Linked DNA regions of Homo sapiens. The protein of the gene in region 4 purifies or fractionates together with the protein of the main gene of each other region. This does not show direct contact. Each region holds a gene or a part of one and is shown on either strand. Other genes may lie near its edges. The genes, in order: FREM2, DHTKD1, MSRA and BMAL2.

Region 1 (6,114 bases), on a different chromosome or scaffold from region 4:
ATTAATCTTAAGGACTAGTGGCATATGGGTTGACTTAGTCACCGTCCATTTCCCTGCACTTCAAAATCAATTGCTCAATGAGGTAATAACAGCCGCCCATAGAAACTACTGTCTCAAAGGACTTTTAATGCAAAGCACCTCTCCTGCTGGCCAGGCTAGCAGGTAAGAGGGAATGCTAACTACTATACTATACAGCTAAGAATGAAATAACTGGTTTGGTTGATGGTTCTTTTCTATATATTTTTATTAGGGATTCAGGTCATCATTTTTGTGACATGAGCAGTTTACTTTTAACTTCATAAGAATGTTCTAAATTATAGTTCTCATGATTTAAATTATTTGCTAACTCATGCCTGTGATTCTTGTTGTGAGCTGTGTGGAAGGAGAACTAGACCATAATCAGACAGCCTGACTCAAACTTCTATGGAGTGTGATCTGACCTAAGTCCTTTCCTCTTGTGTAGAAGAGGCTAGTTGTATTTGTCCTACTATTGTGCAGAGCTATTTTGAGAATGAAATATGATAGCCTTTGTTAGATGACCTTAGGACTGCCTTCATCTTTGTTTGGAATACGATGAAGTAAGACAGAATAGAAAAAAAACATGGGCCAAAAGCTGAGTTCTGATCTTGTCCGAGCCATTCAGGAGGTTTAGAGAATACTGTGGGACATTTACCTTTTTCCTTTGAGTCTTAATTTTATCTTTGTCTCTTTCTATCCGTCATCCATTGACCATCCAACTATCCATCCATACATGCAAAATAATTATGGTGGAGAGTGAAAATATTAAATAGTGTTTATTCAGAAACTAGTACAGTTTCTGAAATATGGTAAGTACTCAATATATAAATATTAGTTTATCCTCCACTATTCCCAACCCATCTGCTAAACACCAGAAGGAGGAAAGTATAAAATTCAAGGCAAGACACTTCATTTCAACTAATTATTCTTGAGATATTATAAATGTTATATGTTATTAGTAAATATATTTGCTTCCAGATCTATGTTTCATATTCCCTTAATAAAAAAGTAGCTCATAGCAGCATTTTTTATAATAGCCAAAAACTGGAAACAACCCAAATGGCCATGAAGTGATAAATAGATAAATGAAATGTAATATGTGCATACAATGGGCTGCAATTCATTAACAGGGGAATTAAGTATTGAAACGTGCTCAAACATGGATGCACCTTGAAAACATTATGCTAAATGAAAGAAATCTATCACAAAAAAACACATTTTGTATGATTCCATTTATATGAAATGTCCAGGATAGACAAATACATAAAGACCTAGTGGTTTCCAGGGACTGACGGGGAGGAGGGATTGGGGGTGACTGCTAATAAGTACAGGCTTCCTTTTGGAGGTGATGAAAATCTTCTAAAATTGATTGTGTTGGTTGCACAGCTCCTTAAATATACTAAGAACCATTGAACTGTTTACTTTAAATAGGTGAATTACATGGTATGTAAACTATCTTCATAAAACTGCTCTAAAGAGGATTTTGTAAGTATAGTATGCTCAAAATAATGCACTGTCTTAAGGATTTCTGGTACATATCCTTTGTTGCCAATGAAGGTAATTAGTAACAACTATTTAATCGATCCAAAATTAAGTGAGGGGAAAATAGTGTTATAAAATGCTGTCATTTCCTCTTCTCAATGATTACTCAAAATCTTCAGTTAAGCGAAAAGAGAAAATGGCTTGTACAAAATTAGGCCCACTTAGTTAACACTGAGTCATGTTGATTGATGTAATTTTGTTGTTTTAGGTCCTAAACCTAGTGCAGTCCTATGTGACCCTTCGAGTCCCTCTGTATGTTTCCTACGTGTTCCATTCCCCCGTGGGGGTAGGAGGCTGGCAGCATTTTGACTTGAAGTCAGAGCTTCGTCTAACTTTTGTGTACGACACCGCCATCTTGTGGAATGATGGAATTGGCAGCCCCCCAGAGGCTGAACTTCAAGGTGAGTTCAGAAGACTTGGAAAATTCTATAGTTTTGTAACCTATTTAAACTATTTAAGACGATTTTTTTTTGCCATTGCTAAAAGTAGTACTAGCAAATTTCAGTATATTTTCATTTTCTATCTATAATAAGATAATTTCACCTTTTTCATCAAAAAACTCTTTAAACCATATTAGGGCTTTAAATTTTGTGCAATATGTGATTATTAAATATGACTTTATATATTTCATGGATATTTTATCCTTGCGATCTATTTTAGGTGATTAATTATTTATGTGTTACATAACACAACATATATATTTTTCTGAATTCTAGAAAATGGATAGAGGAAGCTCCAACGAAAGCAAGAAATGACCAAGGGAAAAAGTTACACATTTTTATTTCTGAAAAAAAGAGGTGCATTTAAATTAAATACAAATTATGGCCTGAATTCTAGTCATGACTCTACAACTAACTAGCTGTGAGATCTCAAGCATATTGCTTAACCTTTCTGGGACTTAACTTTTTCTGAATGATAGACACAACTTCTAATATCTCTTTCTGATGTAAAATTCTATTACTCTGGGGTACTTTAGTTGAATGTCTGCGAACTCGGATTGTGAATGCCACTAGTTCGAGTTCGCGAGCATTTGCAAAACTTGGTTTCAATCTCCATGTTAGACTCATAGTTCAAAGTCCACAAGCATCAATCTAATCCATTAGTAGGACGAGTGCTTTTTCTTTTTCAGACATGTATTACTGTTCCGATTCCACAAACATCCATAGTGTCATGCCAGTACTGCATTTTACTAGCCAGCAGGAAAACAGAGTTAATAGTGCACCTCAAATGTAAATCTACTCTCTTAAGTGGATTAAAACCTATTTATGCTCTGTTCATTTTGTTGTTGTCTTTTTTTCTCCATGTTTCATTTTGAATAGTTTCTATTTTAGAGCTATGTGACAGGTAATATGATAACCCTGAGTTATGATTCCAAATTATTTCAAATGTTTTAAGTCCGTGTCTTGTTTTAGAAGATGTATATTTAAGTTAATCTTAATGAGGATTTTTCTGTGGTTCCCAACCTCCACATAGGATCTCTTGTTTCCATCTGATTTCTGGAGCCAAATTTTATCAAACTGCTAAATTTCTTGGGAAAGCTTCAGAGGTTTCTTTAAGTCTATAAAATTAGGAATAATTCTGGATAACTCAAACCTATTTCTATTTACATGTCCGAATCTCCATCATTTTGACAATTTTGTCATGCCTCTCAATTTACAGCTTCATTTTTATAAACTCAGATTTTAAAAAAACTTGGTCTATTGTAAGTAATCTGTGTATTTCATAGTGACTTCACTCATGTTACTTAATAATTCATTTTGGCTCCCTTTTCTGCTTAGAAAAGAAAATGAAGATACTTCTGCCTCTGTTATTCAGAATTCTTCTGATAATACCCTTTGCCCAGAATGTTTAAAGACAAGTCAAACCTGAATTAATTTTTGGAAGGAATCTGTACATAAGGGGTCTCTGGCTACATATATTTTCATTCTTGGTACTCTCCCCATTATAGGTTCTCTCTATCCAACCAGCATGCGCATCGGTGATGAGGGGCGCTTGGCCGTGCACTTCAAGACAGAGGCTCAGTTCCATGGCTTATTTGTGCTGTCACATCCCGGTAAGCCCCGTTATCTTTTAACAACCACTCCTCACACAAAAAGGAGGTAGATTTTCCATCTTCACACATTTCAGCGTGCTTCTCTGTTACCACTGAAGCCCTTAATCTCAAATGAATTGTACATGTGGGATTATCTCCATGAGAGCTTGATAATTGTTCAGCTTCACCTCATAATCCACAAAATTATCATTATGCAGACTTTCAGAGAAAATGCAAAATAATTAGAGTAAAATTAAAAGGAAACCCTATTGAGTTCATTTTAAGTAAAGTTTTCCTTAAAGAGCATAGGAATAATCATTTCTTTCTCTGCTTTGCTTCCATTGTACAAATCGAATTGCAGATGATTCATTCAGCAAGCACTTCTCTTTTCACAGCTTTTTGCTAGGTACTGTGAGAAACCCTTTTAATAGGGTCAGAGGAGGTACTTCACTTTCATATTTAAGTTTTGGACATGTTAATTATGTTTAATAAGTATTGGCTATGCAATTTTACTAACTGTGATTCGCTGTGCTTTGAATATCAACAAGGCAGCAGTCGATAAAATCCCACGTCTAACTTCATTTGTTTTTTGTTTTTTTTTAACAAGGACATTTCACTAGAAAGAGCTTATTTTTTATTTGACTCTCCATATTACCAGTTTAGTAACATGGAGAGTCAAATAAAAAATAAGCCATTTTTCTGCCAGCTTATATTAGATTGGGAAAGGGAAAATAGTTCACTCAACATCTTTATAGCTTTTCTTTTTCTGGACTTGAACTCTAACAAAAGAGAATAGGGCTGAATAATTAGGAAGAGAAAGAGGCTTCATTGTATTTTTATGGAACTGAGCTACAAGAAAGAAAGAACCCAAAAAAATCATTTTGCTTTATTGTATTTGACAGTTCTGGAAAATGAGGATTTTCTGGTCTATACAGTTTTCTTCTACATGCCTACCTTTCTAATAAACTGAATCTTTGTGTAGCCATGATTGCAGGCAATCTAACTAAAATCAGACTCCATTCATAAATTGGGTTTGCCCAGCTGTGTGGATACTAATAGACTATTTTAAGTTCAGCTCGTAACTTCAGTGCACAATAAATGCATTCACATCACCCTTTATTGTGCTGCTGTGACTCCCCAGAAAGTAGCTCTGAACAATTTGAGCATTTCTGTACAATTATCTTTTGACAAAACTATAGAGCAGAAACAGTACTGAAGTAGGAATCAGAAAGTCACATCCTAGCTGTGTGATCTTTGGAAAGTCACACAGTCACTCACAGCCCAGTTTCTTCATCTGCCAGAGGAGGATAATTATACTAACCATGACTGCTTTGCAGCCTTCTTATAAAAACAGAAGCAAATAATGTATGATCATTTATTTTGAAAACTCTAAACTGTTATGCACTCTTTTAATTGAACCACTATATCATTATTATAATTACTGGCACTTTCCTAGCATCCTTTACAAGCTCAGTGATCATGTCAGCTGATCATCCAGGCCTGACATTTTCCCTCCGCCTCATAAGGAGTGAACCAACCTATAACCAGCCAGTACAGCAGTGGAGCTTTGTCTCTGACTTTGCCGTAAGTGACTAAGACTCTTAATTAATTTTCTTCTGCTGCTGCCATCTGATTACACCTCAGATTTTTAAATGTAATATATCAATATCTTCTCCTCAAAGGTACGTGACTACTCAGGGACCTATACTGTGAAGCTGGTGCCATGCACTGCCCCATCACATCAGGAATACCGCCTGCCAGTCACCTGCAACCCCAGAGAACCTGTCACCTTTGACCTTGACATCCGATTCCAACAGGTGTGGCTTATAGAATTACTATCTTATGACTTGCAGAATCCCACTTTGTTTTTCATTTATTAGTAAAAAAAAAAAAAATCCACACGTGAATGACTTTAATTCTTGCATGCTGAAAAGAAAAGAAATCAGACAGTTAAGGAAGCTAGGGATAAAAGAATGAGGAGAGATTTGCCCTTTATCTGTTGTTAGTACAGGATGTAAAATTCAGAGTTTAAATGTATGCAATGGTTATTTTTTTCTTATCTGATCTTATCTTGTGTCCTCCTGAAGTTTGCTGTCTTGGAGATTTGAGAATTTTCCCCGCACTTCTGCATTTCTTTTCTTGTTCTTCTCTAAAGAGAATGAAATCCTGTAGCTCAAACCACCTCAAAGTACCTAATTGCCATTATGTATTATAAAAAATGTGATGGCATCTTTTTTTCAAGAATTTTTACTGTTGGCCTTCTACTGACAATGATATTTACAAGTCCTTTATATACCCCAATAAACCAGTGGAAATGAGCTCAAGCAATGCTGTTTAGTCCCATTCAAAAAATGACTTGATCCCACCAGTTTTGCCTTCTCAAGGACAAAAGCAATGTTACAACTCTCTGAGTTAGCTTGGTAGGGTGTGAAAATTGCGATGCAGTGTTTAGTGTTCTACAGTGTACGGTGAATGTATGTATCTGTGAACAGTATGTTTGTGCACCATCAGAACCACTGATG
Region 2 (3,500 bases), on a different chromosome or scaffold from region 4:
TTATTTTTATTTTTTTGAGATGGAGTCTTGCCCTGTCGCCCAAGTAGCTGGGATTACAGGCACGTGCCACCACACCCAGCTAATTTTTGTATTTTTAGTAGAGACGGGGTTTCATCATGTTGGCCAAGATGGTCTCGATCTCCTGACTTCATGATCCACCCGCCTCGGCCTCCCAAAATGCTAGGATTACAGGCGTGAGCCACCACACCTGGCCTTTTAAACAAAATTTTTTAAAAATTTATTTAAAATTTATTTTTCTTTTGTTTTCTTTTCTTTTTTTTTTTTTTGAGATGGATTCTCCCTGTCGCCCAGGCTGGAGTGCAGTGGTATGATCTCAGCTCACTGTAACCTCTGCCTCCCAGGTTCAAGCCATTCTCCTGCCTCAGCCTCCCAAGTAGCTGGGACTACAGGTGCATGCCATGATGCCTGGCTAATTTTTTGTATTTTTAGTAGAACGGGGTTTCACTGTGTTAGTCAGGATGGTCTCGATCTCCTGACCTCGTGATTCACTCCCATCAGCCTTCCAAAGTGCTGGGATTACAGGCATGAGCCACCGCGCCCAGCCTAAAATGTGTTAGCCAGGATGGTCTCGATCTCCTGACCTCATGATCTGCCCACCTCGGCCTCCCAAAGTGCTGGGATTAAGGCATCAGCCACCGTGACTGGCCTAAAATTTCTTTTAATATGTGAGAAAAAAAAGTCTTTTGGTAACAGGACATACTGTCACCATTCAGGGCTATGTACAGTTGCAGTTCTTGAGACAGTCTTGCTCTGTCACCCAGGTTGGAGTGCAGTGGCACGATCTCGGCTCACTGCAACCTCCGCCTCCTGGACTCAAGCAATTCTCCTGCCTCAGCCTCCTGAGTAGCTGGGATTACAGGTGCACACCACCACACCCGGCTAATTTTTAGATTTTCAGTAGAGACGGGGTTTCACCATGTTGGCCAAGTCTCAAACTCCTGGCCTCAAGTGATCCACCTGCCTTGGCCTCCCGAAGTGCTGGGATTACAGACGTGAACCACCATGCCTGGCCTGGTCTTACTTCTTAAGAACTAAAGATACTTAAGTTCAGAACTTAATCTGAGATGATCAAAAGATGACATGTGGAAGACAGGCTCAGTACAAATGAATGGAACTGAACCTCTGCTGGGGCTGTGACCAGGACTCTGGAATGTCAAGATGGCAAGAAGCCCCTTCCTAATAGTTTGGGTAGTTGGATAGTTTGCAGCCTTGATTCATACCGTAGAGCCCCGTGTGAAAACTGGGGTACTGGGAAGAGGCAGCAGAAATCTAAGGCCTGGATTCCAGTCCAGAAGAACACACATTCTAAGGGGGTTTCCTTGGGGTGAGTTATTCTGCCGCTCAGGTTATTCTCCTCAGCCCCTCCTACTGTCCCGGATCCTAGGAAAACCATCCCGCTGTGTCCGTGTTATGTCTCTCTCCGGGATATGTAGTAAAGTGGCATTGCTGTGGCCACTTGGGGAGTGTGGGGCCATCTCACAACACACACAGACTTATCTGCCTTCCACTGGAGAAGCTGGCTGTCTCCTGGCAGCTCACGTCTGACATGATGTTCTGCAGGAGTTTGACCACTTTCTGGCCACCAAGTTCTCGACAGTGAAGCGATATGGAGGCGAAGGGGCTGAAAGCATGATGGGCTTTTTCCACGAGCTGCTGAAAATGTCGGCCTACAGCGGGATCACTGATGTCATTATTGGGATGCCCCATAGAGGGAGGCTGAATTTATTGACAGGCCTTCTGCAGTTCCCTCCAGAGGTAAGGTTACTCGCTGTGTTTCTCAGTAGCACTATATGATTGATTGTAACAGAATAAAACTGCTGGTTTCATTCTGGTGATAAATGATGGTGATGGTGATGGCCGGGCACTGTGGCTCACACCTGCAATCCCAGCCTGTTGGGAGGATGAGGCAGGAGGATGGCTTGAATCTAGGAGTTTGAGACCACCCTGTGGAACAAAGTGAGACTTTGTCTCTACCAAAAATAAAATAAGTTAGCCAAGCATGGTGGCACGCACCCGTGTTCCCAGCTACTCAGGAGACTGAGGCCAGAGGATCACTTGAGCCCAGGAGTTTGAGGCTGCAGTGAGCTATGATCTCACCACTGCACTCCAGGCTGGGCAACAAAGCAAGATGCTGCCTGAATATAAATAAATTTTTAAAAAGTAAAACTCATGGTGATCATTCATTTTAGGAAGTCAACTAAGGCTGGGCAAGGTGGCTCATACCTGCAATCCCAGCACTTTGGGAGGCTAAGGCAAGAGGAGTGCTTGAGCCCAGGAGTTCAAGACCATGGGTAACCTCGCAAAACTCTGTCCCTACAAAAATAAAAATTAGGTGGCATGGTCTCTACAAACATGAAAATTAGGTGGTGCACCTATGGTTCCAGCTACTTGGGAGGCTGGGATGGGAGGATCTCTTGAGTCCAGGAGATGGAGGCTGCAGTGAGCTGAGACTGTGCCACTGCCCTCCAGCCTGGAAGACAGAGCCAGATCCTGTCTTAAAAAAAAAAAAGAGGAAAGGCAACTAAGCATATGAGCAGTTGGTCCAGGAGGTAGCTTAGACAGTTTAGTTAATTGACAGAGTTGGTATTTGGATTGGTTTTCCATGTATACTTACTTATTTATTTATTGAGACCTAATCTCGCTCTGTCACCCAGGCTGGAGTGCAGTGGCGTGATCTCGGCTCACTGCAACCTCCGCCTCCCAGGTTCAAGTGATTCTTATGCCTCAGCCTCTCTACTAGCTGGGATTACAGGTACCTGCCACCACACCCAACTAATTTTTTGTATTTTTAATAGAGACGGGGTTTCACCATGTTGGCCAGGCTGGTCCCGAACTCCTGACCTCAAGTGATCTTCCCGTCTCAGCCTCCCAAAGTGCTGGAATTACAGGCATAAGCCACCACTCCTGGCTTTAAATTTTCTTTTTTGTTGTATGATTTCAACTCAGCACTTCTTCCCTAGACTCCATTGTGATGAATGCCATTTTTTTCCTTTTGAATGTATCCACAATAGCTGATGTTCCGTAAAATGCGAGGCTTAAGTGAATTTCCAGAGAATTTCTCAGCCACTGGAGACGTCCTGTCTCACCTGACCTCCTCTGTGGACCTGTACTTTGGGGCGCACCATCCCCTCCATGTGACAATGTTGCCCAATCCCTCGCACCTGGAGGCCGTCAACCCCGTGGCCGTGGGCAAAACTCGCGGCAGGCAGCAGTCTCGCCAAGACGGCGATTACTCTCCAGACAACTCAGCCCAGCCGGGGGACAGGGTCATTTGCTTACAGGTACTTGGAGCTTCTGAAATTGAGGCCAGAGGTGGGGAAAACTGGGAAGAATGTGTGGGTTGGGAGGGCTGAAAGCACATGGCAGACATTCATGATGAAACTGAGATGACCTTTTGGAAAAAGATTCTGGGATTGTTTTAAAAACTAACAGGAGATTCATGAGGTTTAGTCTTCAGGCAACTGGCTTTAGCCTGGGGC
Region 3 (3,500 bases), on a different chromosome or scaffold from region 4:
AAGTGTCAAAATGTCTCAGCATTGTGCCCAGTTTGAGACTGGCACTGTCGCCTAGTGACCGGGTAACCCTCCCTGTTTTCTGCTTTCCTAGGTATGCGCCAGGGGAACGACCATGGCACTCAGTACCGCTCGGCCATCTACCCGACCTCTGCCAAGCAAATGGAGGCAGCCCTGAGCTCCAAAGAGAACTACCAAAAGGTAGGGATTGCTGGGCTCCTAGCCCCTGGCTTAGGCCACCATGACTAGGGCCAGGTTCTGATTTTAGAGGGCAGTCTGCTGCTTTTCAACTGGAATTGTGTTTTATTTGCACATCTCTTAGAAATTTCTGTCAGCCTCTAGGAGTGGAGCCATTGTGTCTAATACGTGTGCTAAATGAGGTTTTAAGAGTAGGCCTGGGCCAGGGCCAGTGGCTCATGCCTGTAATCCCAGTACTTTGGGGGGCCGAAGCAGAAGGATACTTGAGGCCAGGAGTTCGAGACCAGCCTGGGCAACATGAAGAAACCCCATCTCTACAAAAAATACAAAAATAAGCCAGGCATGGTGGCCTGCACCTACAGTCCCAGCTACCTGGGAGGGTGAGGTGGGAGTATCGTTTGAACCTGGGAGGTCAAGGCTGCAGTGACCTGTGATTGCACCACTGCACTTCAGCCTGGGTGACAGAGCAAGACCCTGTCTCAATGTAAAAAAATAAAGAGTAGGCCCTTATGTGTTTGCCTTTGAATCACTCATCTAGATGAAGACACAGCCTGTTAAAATAAGTCTTTTTCCTTCTCTCTTTATTTCTGTCTCTGTCTGAAACTCTCTCTTTTTTTCTTCCCTCTGTATTAGTTTTACAGGGCTATTGTAACAAACAGTCACAGCCTGGTTAGTTTAAACAGCAGATATTTATTTTCTCACAATTCTGGAGGCTGGAAGTCCAAGATCAAGGTGTCGGCAGGGCTGGTTCCTTCTGAGTGCTGTGAGGGAAGGGAAGGATCTGTTCCAGGCCTCTCTCCTTGGCTTCTAGATGGCTGTCTTCTCCATGTTTATATTCACATCAGCCTAGTTTTATGTGCGTGTGTTTCTTTGTCCAAGCTTCTTGTTTTTAAACAGTCTCTAGTCATATTGGCTTAGTGCTAACCCTCATGACCTCGTTTAACTTAATTACCTCTGTAAAGACCCGTTCTCCAAGGAAGGTCACATTCCGAGGTTTTAGGACTCCAACATATCTTTTGGAGGGAGACACGATTCAACCCATAACACTTTCTCATAACAGTAAATTGAATTATGATAAAAGTAGTTCTCGGAAATATATACATGATATCACAAAATAATTATTTTCAGAGTTGTGTACCCTTTTTTAAAATCCTCCAATAGAGATTTAGTTGTTTTAAAAACAAGTTGACTTGCTTTAGTTTTTAGAACTTTGTGATAGTACTTGTATTTTATTTATCATTATATTTTCTGATGTGGATTTGCATTTGACAGTAGAGCTAGAAGCTACTATAAAGCTAATCTATGTTAGAATTTTGTAAAAAGTCAGGTATGCAACAGCCCCCAGGAATGAGTGCAGAGACGAGGAGGCTGTAACTAGAGTGTCCACTGGTGAGCAAGTAGAAGGACGGGTGACTCAAGGTCAGTTCGACTATGATGAGCGGAGAGGCCTGAGGGAGGCGCTGACAGAGCCCATTCCTTCCTTGGCCCCTCCCACCTCCCTCCCAGGGTGATGTCTGCTTGGCTGGTCATGGTAGGCAGCCTGTGGGATGGCCCCCAGTGCTCTCTGCCCATATGTAATTCATCTCCTTGAATATGGGCTGCATTTAGCAACTCACTTCTAATGAATGACAGCAGTGATGGGAGCACTCTGAGACTAGGTCATTAAAAGATTGTGGCTCGTATTGTGAAAACTCTCTGTTACCGCGTGAGAGATGGTAGGGGAAGCCAGTTGCCACGTCATGAAGCAGCCCTGTGCAGAGGCTTACATGACAAGGACAAAAGCCTGCCAAGAACTATGTGAGTGAGCTTCGAATCCCCTCAACCCCAGTCAAGCCTTCAGATGAGACTGCAGCCCTGCCTGACAGTTTGATTACAGCGTCATGAAGGACTTCAAGCCAGAGGCACACAGCCAAGCTGTGCCACAGAAGCTGTGAGATAATAAATGTATATACTTTGAAGCTGCTAAGTTTTAGAGTAATTTAAGTATACTTGTATTTCCATTCTAAAAACCTTTTACCTATATATTCTTTCTCTTATCCCTTTTTCGTAATGGCTTTTGTAACAGTGGTGGGCTAACCTGGGCATTTATGGTGGTGGTTACACATGCAGTCTCTAGCATGAAATTTTCTCAATTCACATGTCATCTGTGCAGTTTATTATCAAGTACCTGACACTTAGAAAGCCATATGTTCTATTTGACTCAAGCAGACCTATGAGGATGAGGGAGACCCCATTATCCCCATTTTCCAGATGCTCAAAGAGAGAGCAATGACCTTAGAATAAATGAAATTAAAGAGAAGTAAGACTGGATGCAGGGAGATGAGTTGGGCAGCTATTATAGGATTCCGGGCCAGAAGTAATGGAAGCTTTGTCTAGGATGGTGGAAGTATGGGTGGGAGGGAGGGATATTTAGGAAGTACAAAGACCAGAACTTGGAACTTCACTGGAAGTGGAGAGTCAATAAGAGGGACAGGTCCAGGTCCAGGTCATGGCTGGTGATTTTTTGTACAAGTGTACAGAGAAGCAGAGGCAGATTTGTGGGGAAGGTAAGTTAAGTTGTGAAAGTGCAGAGTCTAAGGTGCCCATGACATGGGCATCCAAGGGGCTGTTTGGAGGAGCCATGGGCTGTTTCTGCCTTGCAGGGAGGATTGTTAGGACTGCTAACTGGGCTAATGCTTGTGAAACACAGGGCCTAGCACATGGTAAATACCTCATAAACAGGAACCCTTATTATTATTGGGAGTTGTCAACTTATATTTGCTAAATGAAACCCCAGTTGCTGATAAGATTACTTGGGAAAAGTAATGAGATAAAAGCAGAAGAGGCAGGGCACAGTGACTCACGCCTCTAATCCCAGCACTTTGGGAGGCTGAAGTGGGCGGATCATGAGGTCAGGACTTCGAGACCAGCCTGACTAACATGGTGAAACTCGGTCTCTACTAAAAATACAAAAATTAGCCAGGCGTGGTTACACGCACCTGTAATCCGAGCTACTGAGGAGGCTGAGGCAGGAGAAATGCTTGAACCCAGGAAGCAAAGGTTGCACTGAGCTGAGATTGCATTACTAAACTCCAGCCTGGGCAACAGAGTGAGACTCCATCTCAAAAAAAAAAAAAAAAAAATGCAGAAGAGAGGGCTTAGTACCCGAGGAACTGATTCCTCCACTTGAGCGGTGGGAGGGGAACTGTCCAACCAGGCAGGACACTACACTGGGCACCACAGGAACCAACCCCAACCAAGAACTTAAAAAGTGGTTCAATTGTTTCATCCCACTGTATTTAATTATAAAGGCAGTATTTATAACT
Region 4 (6,114 bases):
GTCATTATCTTGCTCAAAATCAGTTTACTGCTGTTCCCTGACCTAGCACTCAGAGTCTGCGTTCTTCATTCCTTCCTCAGCTCCCTCCCAAGCTGCTGTGTAGTAATATTAGCAAGAAGTCATTGGGAGAATTCCCTGAGCCCTAGGATGAAGATAGATTCCAACAGAAGAGATTTTCTTTTCCCTATGCCAGGCTCTTAAGAGTGCTACGAGTCTGAGAAAACTGTACTGAATCATAGCATGAGGCATTTTGTCTTTCTGCCCTGCCCACTTACTTTGCCACCACCACCACCACTTAGTTCATTGGTGAGTTTGGGCCACAGATCCGTCCGAGGGCCAATGTGTGGTTAAAATGTCTAAGGATGTTACCCCACCTTTCCCCTGCAAAAGCAACTTCTCTTACAGTACCCAGGAAGAAGGGATAGGAGTCAAGAAGGTTGGGGAATATAAGGAAGGGAAAATTGACTTACTTCTGAATCATCCTTGCCCTGGGGATGGCTTGCTTGGCTTTGTCGTCTGTGTCATACGCCCCCTTGTGGCCATGAAGGGCTTTGCGAATCTGGGTTGGTGGATTCCCTTACTCCTCCCAGGTCAAACATTTCCCTTGGTTTTGGCCTGATAATTCCTCATCATTTTGCAAGCTCTTCAGCTGCTTTAGAGACTTTCATTTTAATATAACTCAGTGCTAAGGGCTGAAAATTAATTATTTCATTTATATTTTATACATTTTTAAAATAATCTGTGTATTATCAGAATAGAGGTCTCTATATTGCCATTAAAGGATTTTCTTACTGGAAAATCTCATGAATCCGTAACATTTGTTTAGAATTCCAGAATACCCCCATTCAAGGTAACTCATATGATAAATTTTAATTAGCTAAGACATTATCTAAATAACTGTAGTGGTCCCCCCTTATCCATAGGGGCATACATTCCAAGACCCTGGTGGATGCCTGAAACCGTGGGTAGTGCTGAACCCTAGGCATAGTACTTTTTTCCTATGCACATATACCTATGATAAAGTTTAACTTATAAATCAGGCATATTAAGAGATTAACATCAATAATAAACTAGGATAATTATAGCAATATACTGTAAAAATGTTATATGTTCTGTCTTTGGCTCTCTCAAAATATCTTATTGTATTGTGCTCACCTGTTTGCAGGCCATGGTGGACCACAGGTAACTGAAACCACAGCTAACGGGGGACTACTGCATATCAATCCTTGAATTTTATTTCATGTACATTTTATTATAATGTTTTTATATATAGCTCTTAATGTGCATATTTGAATATAAAGGAATAAGTAGTTCCAAGAATTCACAATCTAAAAGAAAGAAATTTTAATCAAGTGATAATGAAGAAAGAAAATGATTAGCTGGGCGTAGTGGCTCACTCCTGTAATCCCAGCACTTTGGGAGGCTGAGGTGAGTGGATTGCTTGAGGCCAGGAGTTCAAGACCAGCCTGGCCAACATAGTGAAAACTTGTCTCTAATAAAAATATAAAAATTAGCTGGGCGTGGTGGCATGCGCCTATAATCCCAGCTATTCAGGAGGCTGAGGCACGAGAATCACTTGAACTCAGGAGGTGGAGGTTGCAGTGAGCTGAGATTGCGCGACCGCACTCCAGCCTGGGCAACAGAGTAAGACTCTGTCTCAAAAATAAATAATTAAATTAAATGAAAATGAAAAAAAAAATGATTACAGAAAATGTCTTAGAATGTGCCAAAGAGCAAATACCAGCAGCAGCAGCATTGCTAATGTTCATTAAGCATTTTGCCCTCTCTACTATATTTCCAATAACTCTTGATGCCTTTCTTTTTAGGCTTGACAAATTCTTATGTGGGAAGTAATTATAGACCATCATTTCTTCAGGATAATGAGCTCAGACATTTAATCCTTAAGGTAACTAAAGATATATTTGTCTAAGTTGTGTATGTGCTTTCATTGCTGTTTGAATAGGAGGCAGATTTTCTTCCATTTGCTTCCTGTTCTAAACATATGGGACTCCATATTACACCGTATTTCCTTTAATATAGAAGTTTAAAATAGAGAAGTAGCCATGCATTACTAGTTTGTGTTAATGAAAGTAGAGACAGAGGATAGGCACTTTCCACACTATGGAGCAAAGCTTGTATTCAGTGCTAAGCATTTTATACTACCCATCTCTCACACATAGGATCTACTCCCCCATGATCACCACCTCCTTCAAAGCCGTCTGCCTGGCATCCTGTTCCCTCAGGATCCTGTTCTTCTCGGAGGCCAGTCACTGCTTACTTAGAGTTGTTAGTGCTTTGACATTTCCGTCCTCATCATTCCTGTGCATGGCTTTTCAGATTCACCGGTCTAGAGGGGAAACTGTGATCATGTGATTTGCTTCTCATGCCCTCGGAGGTGATAAATGTCTTGGTCATGTGCTGTGTGACTACTAGGTTTTAAGCCATAGTCAAATTAAATAGAAGGATTCTTCATACACATTTTTGTCCATTTTTCCTTTAATTAAAAAAAGCCACTCTTTTATTTGAACAGCTGAATTTAAATATAGCATTTCTGGCAGGGATAGAAAGGATATTGTGTGGATAAAAAGGATTTTTGAAGGTGGCAAAATGTACGATTTGCTTTCGAAGCTTTCTCACCAATCTGTACATGCTCGTCAGTCGTACCTTCATGGAACCCTGCTTCTGCCCTGCAGAGCATGCCCAGCAAGAGTGCCAGACTCTTCCTATGTGCCATATGTACCCGCTTCCATGCAGGCTGCTTCATGGGATTTGCTGGGTAGACCTTATGAGAGTAGCTGACACATTAGTTTAGAATGAGTGATGCCTTTTTATTATTCAAAAACTATAACAAGGTGTACAGTATAATGTCTTCATTGCTTCCCTGTCCTCATTCTGCCCTGTCCTTCTACCTCAACACATCCACAGGCAATTGTTGTTCTGCATGCAGTGTAGTAGAATTTGGTAAAGGTAATTTTATTTTATTGTTATTTTTTGAGACAAGGTCTGGCTCTGTTGCCTAGGCTGGAATGCAGTGGTGCGATCTCGGCTCACTGCACCCTCCACCTCCCGGGCTCAAGCCATCCTCCCGTCTCAGCCTCCTCAGTAGCTGGGACTAGAGGCGTGCACCACCATGCCCGGCCAATTTTTGTATTTTTTGTCAAGACAGGGTTTCGCCAGTGTTGCCCAGGCTGGTCTCAAACTCATGAGCTCAAGAGATCCACCTGCCTCGGCCTCCCAAAGTGCTGGGATATAGGCTCATTTAGTGCTGTATTTAGGCTCATATACAGCACCTGGCCTAATTTTAGTTTTTAAGAAATGTCTCAACTAAATATTCTGCAGCCAAACTTTTCATGTCCAAAACATTAATTTAGAATAGGATTTCAACTTGACACTCTTTATAAATCTGTTTGCATCTTAAGAACATTTCTTAAAATTAATTTTACTAGCTCCATGACTACTCTGTTAGTTTTATTGCCACAGTAATTTCCTCAGAATCTGAATGTGTGTGTGTGTGTGCGTGTGTATAAGAGACAGACAATATTTTAAAATATTCACTTTTTTTTTAAATCCTAGACTGCAGAAGGCTTCTTATTTGTGGTTGGATGTGAAAGAGGAAAAATTCTCTTCGTTTCTAAGTCAGTCTCCAAAATACTTAATTATGATCAGGTATCCAAAAATGAGGATATTTTCCATACAATGTTTAATTTTTTGAACAAACACATATTTTTAAGCTCTTTTTCTGAACACCTTCTCCCCACTGGGATATGGGATTAGATTCTGCTAAGTTAGAACTCCAAGAGAGATGGAAAGCTGTGTGGAAAGAGTAAGGATCTTTATGACTGATTGCGTTCCCTTCCTGACCTTCAGCAAGTTACTTAATTTTACTGAGCCTCAGCTTCTTCCTATGTAAAAAGTCAAAATGATTATACCTGTCTCTCAAGATGTAAAGACTAAATGAGGTGTCATATTTAAGAGTGTCTGAAAAGTGTTAGTCACCCTTCTCTGTTCCCTCCAAGAGACACTTTATGGTTAATTATTAAGTTATAATCATTGCATGACAGCCTTTGATCTAATCTCTGGCAACACTCTCTGAAATACATCTTTCATTTAACTAGTTTAGTACTTCACCTCCTTATTACTGAACACCATTTCATGGAAACTAGCTACTCAAAAATTATAGCATTGAAACTAACCCAAGTAAGTGAATAAACTAGCACTAGAAATCCGATAGACTGCAGCACTGTTTTTTAATAACTCACATTAGATTATAAGGGTGTTCAGAGATAATGAGTTAAATAACAGAAATAAGGGAATATTATGAGCCTGTGTACAGGAGGATTGAAAACCGATGAAACCTTCAGCTGGTTATAGCTGGGGGCACAAACCTCATGATTCCACGTTCTAACTGGAGATGGAAAACACACCCACACATGCACACACACATGCACGCACACACACACACACACACAGGTAACTGACAGTTTAGGGTACCACTTAAGTTTCAAGTTAGTGACATGGAATCCAGTCCTACTGGGCACTGACTTTGCATAGAAGAGGCTATTAAGAGACTTACTGGCTGCTCAGGGGCATGTAGGGATTCCCATGATTCAGGATTTAGTCCTCAGCTTTTCAGATTCAGAAACTTGGTCTGCCCTAGAGAGTTCTGGATATAGACTTATATTAACCACACAGTTTTTTTTAGAATGAAACATATAACCGCCAAACAATTCAGCCTGCTTATATCGGCTGGTCCGTTAGTCCTGTTGTCTATAGGAATGTTTGCTTGGGTAATACAGGAATTCAGAAGAGGGGTGGCCACTGTGGGTCAGGAAGGCGTCACACATGAAGTAGGATGTCTGCCAGGCTTGTCAGAAGGAAGGTGTAGAGAAGGGGAGGAAACATTTCAACCTGGGAGAAGGGAGTCCCGGAAGTCTAGGGAGTCAAAGGCAATTTGGCTGGAGTGGCCAAGGGATAGGGAAGGGGTGATGAATTCTGAGGGGTGGGACTGTATCAGCAAAGGCATAGACCTGGGGATGCTGTGCCTTTTGGGAGTGGTGGAATGGGAAGTGAGAGGTATTCTGGGTTGGATTTTACCTATCAATAGTATGGTAATTTTTTAAACTGTATGGTAAATATCTGATAAAGTCACAGATATTCTGTGATTTCTATATTATACTATGATGTAATCTCTTTTTTTTAACAAGGACAAAAAAAGTTCAAAGTAAATCACAATCATTTACAAGTAACATGTTAACAAGAGTTACAAGATTTAGCAGAATACTAGCAATTGGTGTTTGTATATGGTTTGTGTATATCCAGGGATGGTTCTATACGCATGTATTTTTTTCTGTCTACAAGTATCACCCTGCTTTGAACATTAAGTTCATGTCACACAGTGTCGTGGACATATCTTTGAGCTTGAGAAAAATCAATCAAAAATCAAAAAAGAACATTTATTGTATGCATCAAGAAATGTAGAAAAAGCATGGTACTGATTTTAAATGAATGTCTACCTTATGAATAGGCTAGTTTGACTGGACAAAGCTTATTTGACTTCTTACATCCAAAAGATGTTGCCAAAGTAAAGGAACAACTTTCTTCTTTTGATATTTCACCAAGAGAAAAGCTAATAGATGCCAAAAGTAAGTGTCCATTTCCGCATGCTTATTATTTTATGTAAATGTAATGATCACCTAAAAGTTTAGCTACACAGTGTTTTTAAAACAGCTAACTAAGCTTTTATCAAGAGAGAATTGTTTTGTAAACTTTACATCATACTTAATAAATATATATAGCTATATAGAAAATTCCTATATTCATACAGACATATACAAACACAAATTCATTGATATGAAGATGCTTTGGGGAAAATATGAGTGCTTCATATTTGCTATTTTTCATATGCAAATAAAATCTTTACAAGAAAGTATCATTTGGATAAAAAATTGCTGAAGTTCCCATTATTTAGCTATATGCTAAAAGACAATTACTCTCTTTTTTATATGGATTAGGTCTTTTCTGTATGAAAGACCTTGTATAATTGTGTTTGGGAAGTATAAGTATTTTTTTCTTCTCTGAAAATGCCTAGTACCAAATAATTATGTAAAATATAAA

What was found.
Region 1: the proteins of BMAL2 (region 4) and FREM2 purify together in Homo sapiens (affinity purification with mass spectrometry; one large-scale study listed by BioGRID and IntAct). This does not show direct contact.
Region 2: the proteins of BMAL2 (region 4) and DHTKD1 purify together in Homo sapiens (affinity purification with mass spectrometry; 2 studies listed by BioGRID and IntAct, with this or other methods). This does not show direct contact.
Region 3: the proteins of BMAL2 (region 4) and MSRA purify together in Homo sapiens (affinity purification with mass spectrometry; 2 studies listed by BioGRID and IntAct, with this or other methods). This does not show direct contact.

Annotation. Positions count from the first base shown.
Region 1 is NC_000013.11:38,870,974-38,877,087, forward strand, and holds part of FREM2 (FRAS1-related extracellular matrix protein 2 precursor), read left to right. Parts: intron 1-1,768; coding exon 1,769-1,961; intron 1,962-3,508; coding exon 3,509-3,613; intron 3,614-5,048; coding exon 5,049-5,176; intron 5,177-5,274; coding exon 5,275-5,409; intron 5,410-6,114. UniProt on the Homo sapiens protein: Extracellular matrix protein required for maintenance of the integrity of the skin epithelium and for maintenance of renal epithelia. Required for epidermal adhesion. Involved in the development of eyelids and the anterior segment of the eyeballs.
Region 2 is NC_000010.11:12,085,954-12,089,453, forward strand, and holds part of DHTKD1 (2-oxoadipate dehydrogenase complex component E1), read left to right. Parts: intron 1-1,581; coding exon 1,582-1,776; intron 1,777-3,032; coding exon 3,033-3,302; intron 3,303-3,500. UniProt on the Homo sapiens protein: 2-oxoadipate dehydrogenase (E1a) component of the 2-oxoadipate dehydrogenase complex (OADHC). Participates in the first step, rate limiting for the overall conversion of 2-oxoadipate (alpha-ketoadipate) to glutaryl-CoA and CO(2) catalyzed by the whole OADHC.
Region 3 is NC_000008.11:10,319,792-10,323,291, forward strand, and holds part of MSRA (mitochondrial peptide methionine sulfoxide reductase isoform a precursor), read left to right. Parts: intron 1-91; coding exon 92-198; intron 199-3,500. UniProt on the Homo sapiens protein: Has an important function as a repair enzyme for proteins that have been inactivated by oxidation. Catalyzes the reversible oxidation-reduction of methionine sulfoxide in proteins to methionine.
Region 4 is NC_000012.12:27,383,655-27,389,768, forward strand, and holds part of BMAL2 (basic helix-loop-helix ARNT-like protein 2), read left to right. Parts: intron 1-1,826; coding exon 1,827-1,906; intron 1,907-3,573; coding exon 3,574-3,666; intron 3,667-5,524; coding exon 5,525-5,642; intron 5,643-6,114. UniProt on the Homo sapiens protein: Transcriptional activator which forms a core component of the circadian clock.